4 linked regions of the Homo sapiens genome follow. The protein of the gene in region 4 purifies or fractionates together with the protein of the main gene of each other region. This does not show direct contact. Each region holds a gene or a part of one and is shown on either strand. Other genes may lie near its edges.

What was found. The genes of interacting proteins can lie anywhere in the genome.
Region 1: the proteins of TSKS (region 4) and RGPD8 purify together in Homo sapiens (affinity purification with mass spectrometry; 2 studies listed by BioGRID and IntAct, with this or other methods). This does not show direct contact.
Region 2: the proteins of TSKS (region 4) and POC1A purify together in Homo sapiens (affinity purification with mass spectrometry; 2 studies listed by BioGRID and IntAct, with this or other methods). This does not show direct contact.
Region 3: the proteins of TSKS (region 4) and PGGT1B purify together in Homo sapiens (affinity purification with mass spectrometry; 2 studies listed by BioGRID and IntAct, with this or other methods). This does not show direct contact.

The regions. Positions count from the first base shown.
Region 1 is NC_000002.12:112,388,646-112,392,145, forward strand, and holds part of RGPD8 (RANBP2-like and GRIP domain-containing protein 8), read right to left. Parts: intron 2,425-3,500; coding exon 2,330-2,424; intron 1,603-2,329; coding exon 1-1,602.
Region 2 is NC_000003.12:52,098,924-52,102,423, forward strand, and holds part of POC1A (POC1 centriolar protein homolog A), read right to left. Parts: intron 1-3,500.
Region 3 is NC_000005.10:115,214,378-115,217,877, forward strand, and holds part of PGGT1B (geranylgeranyl transferase type-1 subunit beta), read right to left. Parts: intron 2,597-3,500; coding exon 2,488-2,596; intron 1-2,487. UniProt on the Homo sapiens protein: Catalyzes the transfer of a geranyl-geranyl moiety from geranyl-geranyl pyrophosphate to a cysteine at the fourth position from the C-terminus of proteins having the C-terminal sequence Cys-aliphatic-aliphatic-X.
Region 4 is NC_000019.10:49,760,507-49,764,777, forward strand, and holds the start of TSKS (testis-specific serine kinase substrate), read right to left. Parts: upstream 2,801-4,271; 5' UTR 2,742-2,800; coding exon 2,572-2,741; intron 1,727-2,571; coding exon 1,498-1,726; intron 1-1,497. UniProt on the Homo sapiens protein: May play a role in testicular physiology, most probably in the process of spermatogenesis or spermatid development.

The DNA.
Region 1 (3,500 bases), on a different chromosome or scaffold from region 4:
AAAATCACATGCAGTCCACACCCATACTCTTTCTGTCCCTTTCATATTTTGCAAACTCATGTCTGGAGTTATTCTGTGATTGGCACAAAGTTTTAATACTTGGTCCCTTCTCATCACTATACGAACTTGCTTATTATCATAATTCTGTAAAATCTTTATATCACCAATGCCCCTTTCTTTCCATTGACCAACATCTTTATCATATCTGTAGATTTCTGCCCTGTGACTAAAAACAACTTGTTCATTTTCCTCACCACTGGATACTTCAACTAGATCAGGTAAAGGAACAACAGGTTCAAAGTACTGTCCATCTCTCTCTTCTTCTTGAGTAACAACAGATTCTTCATCAGTGCCAACTGAAGTCCCACTCTGATTCAACTTGGCAGGAGACTTAGATAGACTCAAAGCAGATTTAAAACTGAAGTTAGATCCTGTTGTTGACTCATCAAAGCGGAAAAGATTTTTTCTCACAGGGCTACTTGCCAATGGAGAAGCATGTACTGAGCTACTACTGACACTATCATCCAAAGCATCTTCCCTTAAGTCATAGTTATCCCATTCTAATGTGGGCCCAGTGTTTTCAGCATTGGGTTTTATTGTTGTGTCTGAGGCACCGGCCACACCTGTACCTGAACCCTTATTTTCTTCCTCAGTGACTTTTGTTTGATCATTTGTCAAAAATGTTTTGAAATCTTTCAGTCCACTCTTCATTTCTTCAGCTCTCTGTATTAACTTGGCAGCTCTGCCAGTATCTACAAGTTTATGGGGAGTTTGAAGTGGTATGTCTAACAGAAGCCGCTGGCATTCCTCAAATTTCTGCTTGAATTCTTCAGCCAGCTCTGGTGTTTTAAATTTTGCTGCCAACCGCTCTAGTTTGGCATCACCATCAGAGAAATCACTGGCTGACCACATCCATGCTCTATCTGATCCAGAGAGGGGCTTCAGGTTCATTGTAGTCGTTATCCAATGATTAGCACACACTTTTAGTACTTGTTCTCTTCGCATCAGCATTCTTAGTTTGCCATTGACCTCGTTTTTGAGAATTTTTAAGTTCCCCAAGCCCCTTTCTTTCCACTGCCTTACCTCAGCATCAAATCTAAATAGTTTTACCCCCTGTGAATACAGAACTTTTTCACCTTCTTCTCCTGTTACAAGTTCTACTTTTTCAGGCATTTGAACTACTGGTTCAAAATGGATGTCATCGCTGTCCTCAGTCTTATAGGCATCATCATCTTTCTCAAAGTCACCGGAAGTGTTTGCTTTATTGGCCATTTTACCGTATCGTGATGAGAATAATTTTTCTCCAGCACCTGAAAATCCCTTGAAATTGAGGTCTTTTTTGCCAAACTGAAATCCTTCTCCTGAAGTTGATTTTGCAACATCTGCAAATGTAAAAGTGCTACTTGTTTGGCCAAAAATCACACCACGGCCCTTCTTCCGGCCCCTAATATCCTGAGCCTGTAAGCCAGTATCATTTTCAAGAGGCTTTTCCCTTTTCTTTTCTTGATTTCCTGGTTCCGAAATGCCAAATTTAAATCCATCAGCAGACACAGGGATGGAAAATCCTTCTTTGGTTGACTTAAATTCTGTATTAGAAGAACCCTGAAACATAAATGAAGGTGAATTTTCTTGATCCACATGCCCAAAATAGTCATGAAATAAATACCTTCTTCATTCCTAAACAATTTATCAAATGATGTTAACAATAATGATGATGATGATGATGATAACATTTATTGAGCATTCATTAATGTGCCAGCTGGGCACTGTTCTAAGCACTTTACATTATTATCTCATTTTAATATCCTCAAAAACCCTATGAATTAAGGTATTATTATTATCCTCATTTTACATATAAGGCAACTGATGCACTGAGAGGTTAAGAAACTTGCCTGTGGTCAAAATAAGCAGAAGAGCAAGGGTCTAAATGCACCCCAACACTCTGTCCTCAAAGCTGTCACATTCAACTACCACTGTAATATTGAGTCTTCAATCAATTGTTATATATATAGCTGTATCAGGCCTGAAAGTACTTACCACATAGTGGGTCAGCAAGGGCATTACAGTTCTATTTCTGTTAAAACAGAACGATGAAGGATCCACCACCACCACTCCCATTTTTAAAATATTCTAAATATTCACACTTATTAACACAAAAATAAGGTGACTGAGAAGGATAATTTCTGTATTTGGAGATAAATTTAAAATATCTACATTTTAAGGGACATAAAAGTTTTAATAGTGAACTGCTCTCTTGAATTTATTTGAAGGAACCCTAAACAATTTAAAAAGAAAATAATTATAAATGTATAAATTATTCCTTTGTTACCTTTGTGGGAGTAACATTAGCTGCTGGTCTGAGAAGATACTGGGAATTATATGCTGGTGACTGACTATAATATACTGAAGGGCCAGTAGTTGCAACTGAAAAAAAAAAAAGAAAAGAAAGAAAACACTGTTAAAGTCTATACTACAGTTAAGACTATCTAGGCAAGAGCTATAAATACAAAAGCAATAGAAATTAAAGAAAGATTTAACTACATAAATTTTAAATTTCTGTACATCAAAATACACCAATCAAGATTATCAAATGACAAACTAGAAAAAAATTGCTAAATATGACATGAAGAATGAGAGAATAGCATCGCTGTGATCAACAAGAACTACCTCGCAAGCATTAAAAAAGGAATAAAGAAGATAGTAACTGTTGCCTTTTCTAAGAAAGATCAGTATGATGTGGAATTATGGACATTCAGTCACAGAAAGGACGTAAGGAACCAAGATGCCATCTGATAGTCAATGCATTTGAAGTGGGCCTAGAAAATCTGCAGAAAGACTAGGTTGTATTTTGTAAACTAAAGCTATTACTGAGAATGTTCAGCTCAAAAATCACCTGACAAATTCATGGAAAGGATGTCATAAATAACATAAAATGTGTTCCCTGGCTTAAAATAAAAAGCACATCAACACTCATACAGATGTACAAACTGTCTGCTCCCTCTGTTTGGTCTGTTTTGCCAGGAAACAAAATGACTAGAAGGCACCCATGTTAATGACAAAACTACCAATAGTCATTTGCTTGAACTGTTTTATGATAGTTTTACCAGAAAACAACCAAAAGACCTTTTATGCCTGTACATGGAAGAAGAAACAGAAACTGTGCCAAGAGGTTCCAAACAATTGCCTCTGGAAAGCACTGAAAAATCAAGACCTAGAAAAGGCTAGCCAGAAGCCCAAGTTTGATTTCGGAAACCTTACAGAGGTGAGGATAGCTATTTTGAAATTACTATGGGGAGGAAGCAGGCACAGAACACAGAACAACCTGACAGAAATGGCCCAAGAATCTTAAAGTCTTGCAAGATGTCTGTCTGCATGAAAGCAAAAAGAAAAAATAAAATATTAAATAAAAAAAAATCTTAGTCTGAAGTTTAAGTAGGGACTTTAATTGACTACTGACTCTAAACTGTGCGGCTCTAATAAATCTACTAAAAGTAATCTAA
Region 2 (3,500 bases), on a different chromosome or scaffold from region 4:
GTTAAGTAACTTGTTCTAAGTTACCCAGCAAATAACAGAATTGGGATCTGAACCCAAAGTGCAGGCTCTTCCCGGACATGAGACAGCCTCTGGCAGGTGACATTGACTGCAGCTGGGCTTCCATGTGCACAGTTCCTCTCCAACGTCCCCATGGAGGCCTCTGAATCCTAGGTCTAATGCTTTTTGCGTCACTTCCCCAACCCAGCTGCCCTGGAATGATTGCCCAGCACAGAGCTGAACTCAGAGCAGGCCCTCCACAAACACTCAACACCTCAAAGAGCAGGGCCCACCGAGGTAAAATTCCTGTGTAATGAATCCTCCCCAATGTCTGCACTGCAGCAAAGGGCCAGCAGCCCCACCCCTCACAGCTCTGTAGCCACTCACCTGCATGCCAGCACTCTGGAGCTGTGGCATTTCCCTGAGAGCTGGGCAAATAAGCAAGAAAGCAGAGATAAGAAAATGACACACAAGAGTGGGAAGAGACAGTCGTACCAGAGCCATGAGTAATGACAGTGGCAGAATAACCCAAGCAGCATTTAAATGCAAAAGTCACATCAGCATTTTGTCTGTTCAACATCAAAGAGTCCTAGGGGTTTTGCCTGGTGGTTCTCAGTTAAGTATAACATGAATAAAATAACACAAAGAGGCCAGACACGGTGACTTACACCTGTAACCCAACCACTTTGGGAGGCCAAGGCAGGTGGATCACTTGAGGACAGGAGTTCAAGACAAGCCTGGCCAATATGGTGAAACCCTATCTCTACTAAAAATACAAAAATCAGCCAGGCATGGTGGTAGGCACCTGTAATCCCAGCTACTCGGGAGGCTGAGGCAGGAGAATCACTTGAACCCAGGAGGTGGAGGTTGCAATGAGCTGAGATCACACCACTGCACTCCAGCCTGGGCAACAGAGCAAGACTCCGTCTCAAAAGAAAAAGTAATGCTCACTAAAATAACAACAAAGATTAATCCACACATATACTCGTATAGGCCTACACCAATTCAACAACATTTCACTTTTGCCAAATATAAACATCTTAATACCAAAACAAAAAAAGGTGACTCTCAAGAGATGGCTCTAACTTTGGGAAATATCACTTGGGGTCTGCAGGTGTCTCCTCTCATGCCACCCTGGGGTGGGACTCTGGCCTCTCACAGTTGGTTAATGTGTTGCCCACCTCAGTTCCTGTTTCCTCTGCTGCCTGCTTTTCATACACCACCAGGAGCTCATCACTTCACACACAGTAGGAATTGCCTAAATGTCTGTGGCTGATACTCAGCTACCCAGACACATGAGGAACCAAACCATAACATTTCATTAAAAACAAAAGAAACAGCTTGTAGATCTTCCTTGTGACAAGAAATCAACCCATCTGGAGTTGACTTCTTGAGAGGTCTCTGAATTGACCGTGATCTCCCTCTTCCATCAAGATACAAGTATGGATAAGGAGCTGCTGCCTAGGATATATAAAGCTGGGGAAAGTGTTAATTCCTTCCTAACAAGAAAAAGACTGACAATCTAAAAGAATCATAACTTCTCTTAAATCAGAGAGCTGAAGTCACAGAGCAACCAGTAGCCTGAAATCTAAGGAAAGACAGACACTTCCAAGGAAAATAGAAAGTGAGCATCAGCTGTGGGTCACCTATGGCAAAGCATGAGGAGAAGAGACGCCAAATACCATACGAGTGGGTAAGTTACAGTTTTAACAAACTGCTGGAGACCAAGCGCAGACTAGGGTAAGAGTGCAGAACCCCCAGGTGCCACAGACACAAGTAGAGCTTGCACCCATGCACAGGTTCTCCTCCACAGACCTCCACTGGGCTTTCATGACAAAAAAAAATGGGGGCAGAACAGTAGATGGAAGAAAACCGTTCTTGGAGGTGCAGGCCTAGGAGAGGAGAGTGAGTAAGGAAAGGTATGAAGCCCTGCCAGGACCTCTCCCCTGTAGAAGAGCATCCTGAAACTACTAGGGAAAAGCAAATATAAAAACACCTCTTCCCTTGAGGGAGAGGCAGGAAACTATCCTGAGCTGAGATTATCAAGGTCTCCTTTGAATGAGGAAGGAGCAGGACCGCTAAGAATGTCTCACTTTTGAGACCCAGGGAGACAGAGTCTGCTTAAGACTGAAGCTGGGTCAAGACAACAGGGCCCACCCCAACCCTCAGCAAAAAAAAAAAAAAAAAAAATATCAAGCACCAAGCAATAAGCAACAGCAGCCTATCTAGGGAGGAGGGCCAAGAACATGGAAAAAAGCATGCCCCTCTGAGGGGCATGCCCACAGGGCTGGCTGAAAGGTGAGAGTGAGGAAAATGACTGAGAAAATCCTCCATCAACCAGACCTCATCCTAGGTACGTTAGGTAACACTAAACTAAGCTCAACTCCTGATAAGACTATTTACCTCAGTCTTTACTGTCCTAAGCATGATGCCTGGCATTTAATAAAACATTATGAGACACAAAAAGGCAGGGAGAAAAAAAAACCCCACTGTCAAGAGACAAAGCAGTCAGTAGAAGCAGACTCAGATGACCTAGATGTTGAAACTATGAGATACAAAATTTAAAATAACTATGATTAATATGGTAAAGGCTCTACTGAATAACACACATGATCAAATGGAGAATTTCAGCAGAAAGGCAGAAATTATAAGAAAGAGTCAAATGGAAACAACAGAAATAAGAAACCCAGTAACAGAGAAGTATGGCTATAATGGGCTCAATGGGAAAATAAATTAGTGATCTTAAAGATAGATCAATTCCTCAAACTGAAACACAGAGGGATAAAACAGAACAGAGCTTCCATAAGCTACAAGACAATACTGTCTCTAACACATGGACAATTGGAATCCTAGAAGGAGAAGAGAGAGAAATTAGATATTTCTTATAATACAAATTTGCTGGTAAAAAATTGTCAGCTTTGGTTTTTCTGGAGGGGAAAAAAAGGTCTTATTTCCCCATCATTGCTAAAATATTTTTGCTAAGTACAGAACTTTGGGTTGGCAGTTTTTCTTTCAAACTTTAAAGATGTTACTCTTTCAGTTTGTATAGTTTCACGAGAATTCTTCATAATTCTTACATTTGATCCACATATATATGTCTTTTTTTCTCTGGCTACCTTCAAGATTTCTTTCTTAATCCTTGGTTTTCAGAAGTTTGAATATAACTCATCTAGGATTTTGTTTTGTTTTGTTTTTCTCCAGCTTGTTTGCTGTTTCTCTGAGCTTCTTGGAACTATGGTTTGATGCCTTTCATTATTTTTTGAAAATTCTTGGCCATTATCTTTTCAATAGCACCAAAACAACATGAAGTATATATTATTAATAGTTTCCTAGGGCTGCTGTAACAAATTGTCACATTTGATGGCGTAAAACAATCTAAATTAATTCTCTCACAGTTCTGGAAGTCTGAATCAAGGCAGGGCCACATTTCCTCTGGAGGCACTAAGGGAGAATGCTGCCTTCCCTCTTTCAGCTTCTGGTGGCTCCATAATTCCTTTGCTTAT
Region 3 (3,500 bases), on a different chromosome or scaffold from region 4:
AGCACTTTAGATGTTGAAATATATATTTACTCCACAATAAAAGGTTATTCTTTTGAAGTTTCTTTCATAAATGTATATAAAATCCCTTTGTATCAAATTTGCCACTAAATTCACTAGAATGAAGAATAAGCTTAATTTTAAAGAATCTTGTTAAAATGATTAAAGATTCTGGGACCAGATCTTTACACATAAATTCAATTTAGCAAAGCCCTTCTATGCTTTCTATTGCATACTCTGAAAACATTGTAATGTATCTGTAAAAAGTAAGTAGTACATCCAAATATTTACACAAATGTTAAAGTTAGCAACTGAACTCTCCGGAAAAAGCCTCAAGAACTTTCTTTTAAAAAAGCTATTGGAAACACTGAATGTATTTCAAGTATGTTTATACAAGAAATGTTTCCTAAGAGACTGTCATTTCCCTACTCCCATTATTTGTTAAAACAGTACCCTGCACTGGTTTAAAAAATGGAATGAAGACCAAAATAATTCTCAGTTTTGAGGCACTAGAGATATCAAAAATTTCAAGATATTATTTTGCTTGAGAAATTAACTTCTGAAGACACACTTTGGCTTACGACTTTGAAAGCAATGTACACTTTCTCTAAGAAGACATGTTTTACTACTGATTGATTGATTGAGACAGAGTCTCGCTCTGTCGCCCAGGCTGGAGTGCAATGGTGAGATCTTGGCTCACTGCAACCTCCACCTCCTGGGTTCAAGCAATTCTCCTGCCTCAGCCTCCTGAGTAGCTGGGACTACAGGTGTGCACCACCATGCCTGGCTATTTTTGTATTTTTGGTAGAGACGGGGTCTCGCCATATTGACCAGGCTGGTCTTCAACTCCTGACTTCAAGTGATTCACCAGCATCAGCCTCCCAAAGCTGGGATTACAGGCGTGAGCCACTGCACCCGGCCATTTATTTTATTTTATTTTTTGAGATGTACTCTTGCTCTGTTGCCCAGGCTGGAGTGCAGTGGTGTGACCTTGGCTCACTGCAACCTCTGCCTCCCAGGTTCAGGCAATTCTTCTGCCCCAGCCTCCCAAGTAGTTGGGATTACAGGCACCCACCACCACGCCTGGCTAATTATTGTATTTTTAGTAGAGGCAATGTTTCACCATGTGGCCAGGCTAGTCTCAAACTCCTTGCCTCAAGTGATCCGCCCACCTCAGCCTCCCAAACTGTTGGGATTACAGGCGTGAGCCAAAACTCCTGGCCTAGGAAGCATGTTTTATATGAAAATATAGGCAAGTAGGGGTGTAAGGAAATATTCCTGCTCATTTCAAATACAAAAATTGATTTCATGAGCTCCTTATTTATATTCTGATTCAATCACACATTCCAACCACAGCAGTTCTGTGATGGAAGATGAGTTGATGAGGCACTTTCCAGGCTGATAATAAAAACCACGACTCTATTGCAATACTGGCAAAAACAATCATTCCTTGTGTCTAGTTTCATATTTGTAACTAATTCTTTAACTACTTGCTTATCAAAAGTGTCAGTGTTTGAAATTATTTCAAAACACACTTAAATGGATTTTTATAGGGAAGCTGTATATAGACTCATTTTGCTGGAGGTGAAAACATATGTCGGGTGAGGTGTAGGCTGCAGAATGATGCTAGAGGTGGGAGAGGAGCCAAATTTTGGAAGGGCCTTGAGTGCCATGCCATTTATATTGTCTGAATCTGTTGAAATTTGGAGAACAAGAGTATGGGAAGTGAGAAACACATATATTCAGGATTTGAAATATTTTATTTAATGACTTTTTTTTTTGAGACAAAGAGTCTCGCTCTGTCACACAGGCTGGAGGGCAGTGGTGCAATCTCGGCTCACTGGAACCTCTGCTTCCTGGGTTTAAGTGACTCTCCTGCCTCAGACTCCCGCATAGCTGGGACTACAGGCACGCATCACCACACCTGGCTGATTTTTGTATTTTTAGTAGAGTCGGGGTTTCAACACGTTGGCCAGGCTGGTCTTGAACTCCTGACCTCAAGTGATCCACCTGCCTTGACCTCCCAAAGTGTTGGGGTTACAGGCATGAGCCACTGTGCCCGGCCTATTTAATGACTTCTGAAAAGAGTAAGAACTGATTCCCTTCAGGATTGGGAGTAATTTATTATACTTAGTTCAAGTCATGACTAATAATCCTAACGGCTTTGGATGGCCTAAATAATTCTCTTCTTTGGAAAGGACCCATTCAGACCATCTACATTATTGCTGCAAATGAAATAAAACATTACTAAGTAAAATATTTGGGAAAAAATGCACACTATTCCCATGCATCTTGATAATAAACTCTTTCATTTATACTCTCTAATACCCTAAATTTATCCTAAGCTTACACAATATACCTTTTAAAAAATATTATTTAATGTAACTTTGCAACTGGATATATTTTCTATCATATGCCTTTTCTGATAAAGATGCTTGAAGATCTATTCAGGAAATAAAGGTTGTTCTGATTCACAAAGAAAATAATTACCTGGATGACTGTCTGGCCACTTGGCAAATCCCCCTACAAGGCGATCTTGAGTTGATAAGATGTAATTTCTATTTTTCTCAAAGTTAGTGTATTGGAAAATTTTTAGAAGCTGAAATGACATGACAAATAAAAATTTACTGACATAAAACTCATATCAACCTTTGGCTCAAATTTCAGATACGTGTCATTTAGATATGCTTTTCTTTAGCTAAGGTGCTCAGACCAAGTCTCTGGGGCCTTGAGCACTTTTGAAATGAGTAAATCACATTAACTTTTTAATTTTCTTATCAAATCTACTCTCCTTTTCTCGACTCTCTATTTCCTTCTTCTGAACCAGGCCAACTGAACCCTTTAAATCACATTAAGCTAAATTCAAAAGACAACTCGAATCCACTCAACATAATCAGTCATTTTAAAAAGTACAATTTTATCTACCCATATTTTAACTCTTATGATAAGCTCTTGAGCTATTAGTTATAAACTAGTAGTAACTGGAATTAAAAATATTTTTTAAAAAAAGAGCAAACAAAAATTACTAACCAGATGCTACAGACAGTTTTGAAAATAGTAAAAAAGTATAGCTCTTTAATTAGGAAAGAAAAAGGTAAGACAAAAATGATTGCAACATAAAAAACTATATAGTTTTTAATGATTTAGGACATGTACTTGGCTTTTCTCTCAAGACCCCATAAAAGTAAAATACAAATAAATAAATAATACTGTGAAGTTCAAGATGAGGTGCACAGTAGGTAAGAGGGTTCAAGACATTTCTGATGATACAAAGCAATTTAATATATGTTAATGAACCAGAGAGAGCCACAGCTTTTAGTGACTAATGAAGAAGCATTATTTCTCAAAAAGAAAAGCTAAACTCATAAGAAAGTTATGGTACAAACAGGAAACAAATTTATTCATTTACATTGATTTAATTAATAAAATATAAGGAAAAAGACTTTTTTGAATCTTGATGTTAGGAATATTTTCCATCAGTGGCACACTGGTCATTACATAAA
Region 4 (4,271 bases):
TTGTATTTTTAGTAGAGACGGGGTTTCACCATATTGGCCAGACTGGTCTCGAACTCCTGACCTCATGATCCACCCGCCTCGGCCTCCCAAAGTGCTGAGATTATAGGTCACTGCGCCTGGCCTACAAAAAATTTTTTTTTAATCAGCCAGGTGTGTGCCTGTGGTCCCAGCTACTCAGAAGGCTGAGATGGGAGGATCCTTTGAACCCAGGAGTTCGAGGCTGCAGTGAGTTGTGATTGTGCCACTGCACTCCAGCCTGGGAGACAGAGCAAGACCCTGCCTTAAAAATAAATAAACAAAAGCTGGGCGTGGTGGCTCACGCCTGTAATCTCAGCACTTTGGGAGGCCGAGGTGGGCAGATCACCTGAGGTCCGGAGTTCGAGACCAGCCTGACCAACATGGAGAAACCCTGTTTCTACTAAAAATACAAAATTAGCTGGGTGTGGTGGCACATGCCTGTAGTCCCAGCTACTCGGGAGGCTGAGGCAGGAGAATGGCTTGAACCCGGCCGGGAAGCAGAGGTTGCTGTGAGCCAAGATCACGCCATTGCACTCCAGCCTGGGCAACAAGAGCGAAACTCTGTCTCAATAAATAAATAAATAAATAAAATTTAAAAATAAAGGAACGAATGTATGCATCTCCGTTTTACAGATGAGGAAACCAGGGCTCCCTGAACATAGAAAGTGCTAGTGAATCTTATCAGCATCATTAAGATCATGGCTATTGTTAATGTGGTTCTCAGTATCTGGTAGAGCCTGTTTTAGGCCTGGCCCAGGGGAAGCCAGGTGGGGGGTGAGGATCAGAGGTGCAGTGAGTTAAAGGACCCATTTGTAACCCTCTATACTTTTGCCAGAAATTCCCTAAGTCCCCCTAAATCTTGCTCATCTCTCAGTTTTGCCCCAGATTCTTAGCTGACTCCCCTCAGAGAACTCCTACTCACTCACTAAGGTCCAGTTGCAAGACATCCTCCTCCAGGAAGCTTTCCCTGGTACCCCCCAGCCTGGCTTGAGGGGCCTTTCTCTGGGATCTCCTCCGTTAGGGAATTTCTCACCCTAGTCTGTGTCTTTTGCCCCCACCAGACTGGGAGCTCCCCAAGCACAGGGATCTGGCCTGTTTCCTGAGCCCAGCCTCACTGGGGACATTTGGGAGTGACTGTGTGAACTGAAGACCACCCAGGCCAGGCACGGGGGCTCTCGCCTGTAATCCCAGCACTGTGGGAGGCCGAGGTGGGAGGATCACTTGAGCCCAGGAGTTTGAGACCATCTTGGGCAACACAGTGAGACTGTCTCTAAAGGAAGAAAAAAAAAAGACCAACTCCCAGATTCATGGCTGGCTGTCAGAGAAGGAGGAGGCAGTTCCCAGTTAGTTCCTCTGGGTCTCGAATGACCAGAACATTCTAACTCCAAGTCAAAAACACCCCACCCCCGTCCTAAGTATTTGCTACCACCTTGTGGAGGACCTCGGTCCTCCCCAGCGGGTGGTGTGGAGGGCCCTCACCAGGATTTCCGTGATGTCTGCGTCATCCGGATCCCAGGGTAGGGTAGGGGAGGCAGGGGGCCCAGCCAGTGTGAGTTGGCCGCTGAGGTCTTCCACTGTGGAGTCTGTCCCCGTGGAGTCAGTGGGCTCCATGGCGGCCAGGTTGAGCAGTGACACGTTGGTGCAGGCCGAGGACCGTTTGAGGTTCAGGCACCAGTGCATGGGCTGATGGGACATCTGGGGCTCCACCCTGCAGAGAAGAAACAGGCAGAAAAGTGGAGAAGCAGCCCCAGGGTGTCTGGGCCCTCCTGCCTTCCTTTCTCCATACCTCACCCCCTGTGACTCCACCCTCACTGTATATAAGTTTCTCCCTTCTCTGTCCCCGCTGCCTACTTTATTCTCCTTCCCTGTGCTGCCTACTTTCTTTCTTTTTTCTTTCTTTCTTTTTTTTTTTTTTTTGAGACAGAGTCTCACTCTGTTGCCCAGGCTGGAGTGCAGTGGCGCGATCTCAGCTCACTGCAACCTCCGACTGCGGGTCCCAGTTCAAGCAATTCTCCTGCCTCAGCCTCCTGAGTAGCTGGGGTTATAGGCATGTGCCATCACGCCCAGCTAATTTTAGTATTTTTAGTAGAGATGGCTTTTCACCATGTTGGCCAAGCTGGTTTTGAACTCCTGACCTCATGATCCACCTGCCTCGGCCTCCCAAAGTGCTGGGATTACAGGCGTGAGCCACCGTGCCCGACCACCACTGTCTACTTTCTTCTTCTCCTTCCCCGCTGCCTACTTTCTCCTCCCTTCTCTGCCACCTACTTTCTTCTTCATTCACTAGCCTCCCTTCTCCTTCTTCCCTCCCCACTGGCTTTTTCCTCTCTCCATCCATCCCCATTACCTTCTTCCTCCCTCCATCCATCCCCATTACCTTCTTCCTCTCTACCTCCCTGTGACTTGATGTCTCTTCACTGCTGCCCTCTTTCCTGCCCCCGACCTGCTGGCTTTTCCCCCTCCCCTTCCTCTAGCACCCACAGTCGGACTCCTGCTCTGTTGGAGGTAGTGCTGGGCATTAGAACCATCCCTGACAGTGTGCAACAAACCCACCCGTGGAACGACACGGCCTTCTTTTTCTTCGGGATCCCCTTGGCCCGGCTGGTCACCCTCCGGGGAGCCTCTGGGACTAGCTGGGAGCAGCTCTCCACCCCCGTGGGGGTGTCCCCGGCCTCATGGATCTCTTTGGACTGCCAGATCGTCTTCACCACCACGCTCGCCATGGTGTGGGGGTCTGGCTCCCAGGGAGGGGCTCCTTCCTCTGAGACTTCCTACCTACTGTGACCACAGACCCTCAGGATCCACTGTCCCCTCAGCCTGCCTCACAAAGGACCCAACCACTGGGCCCCAGTGAGTGGGGGGCACAGGGTAGGGAGAGATGCTGGCCCAGGTCATTCCCCTAGGGTTCTCAGTGGACTCCTCCTGTTCAGGATTCTAGTTACATGCCCAATGTGCCCCCCGTCTTCAGAGCTCCAGTGGATGGATTCATGCTAGCCTGTAACTTAACAATGGGTCGGCCCACGGATTCTTGGGAGAGGTCCAACTTCCCTCTCCCTGAGACTAAGCGTGGGGTCACACAGCCCTGTGCACTTGTTCTTGATTCTTCATGTAGCTTCCTGGATTTGACAATTGGCTGGGGTTTGAGAGACTGTGGTCGAAGAGGGCTGAGATCCAGACCCTGACCTGGAGGGTCTCATATTCTATGGGGCGTCGGGGTCGGGGGAAAGGCAATATACAGGTAGATCAACAAAAGAAAGCTAGGTGCGGTGGGCCTCGGGGTCAGGGTAGAAGGTGAGGGAGGAGAGGAAGGTAGAGAGTTGGGGCAGGACAGAGGGTGGTATCCCCCTCCCCCGTTTATTTATTTATTATTTTCTTTAATACTTTTTATTTTTTTTGAGACAGAGTCTCTCTCTGTCATGGAGGCTGGAGTTCAGTGGCGCGATCTCAGCTCATTGCAACCTCCACCTCCCGGGGTTCAACCGATTCTCCTGCCTCAGCCTCCCCAGTAGCTGGGACTACAGGCGCTGGCCACAATGTCCGGCTAATTTTTGTATTTTTAGTAGAGACGGGTTTCACCATGTTGGCCAAGTTGGTCTCAAACTCCCGACCTCAAATGGTCCACCCGCCTTAGCCTCCCAAAGTGTGGGATTACAGACATGAGCCACCATGCTCCGCTATAATTTTTTTTTTTTTTTTTTAGATGGAGTCTCGCTCTGACACCCAGGCTGGAGTGCAGTGGCGTGATCTTGGCTCATTGCAACCTCTACCTCCCAGTTTCAAGCGATTCTCCTGCCTCAGCCTCCTGAGTAGCTGGGACTACAGGTACCTGCCACCACACCCATCTAATTTTTTTTTTGTATTTTTAGTAGAGACAGGGTTTCACTGTGTTGGCTAGGCTAGTCTCCAACTCCTGACCTCGTGATCTGCCCACTTCAGCCTCCCAAAGCATTGGAATTACAGGTGTGAGCCACTGCGCCCCGCCCGCCCAAAGTATTTAAAAAATATATGGAACATGTCACAAATTTGCATGTGGTCTTTGCGCAGGGCCCATGCTAATCTTCTCTGTATCGTTCCAATGTTAATACATGTGCTGTCGAAGCGAGCACTGCCCTGCTATTTAGGGACAGACTTTTCCTGTTCTCTTCACACTTCTCAAAAAGACTAGTTCAAACATCACTGCTAATAGACATTTTAAATGCTGTTATCCCCAGGGAGAAAGTACTTCTTCCTGGTCATGAATGGACTCCAGTTCT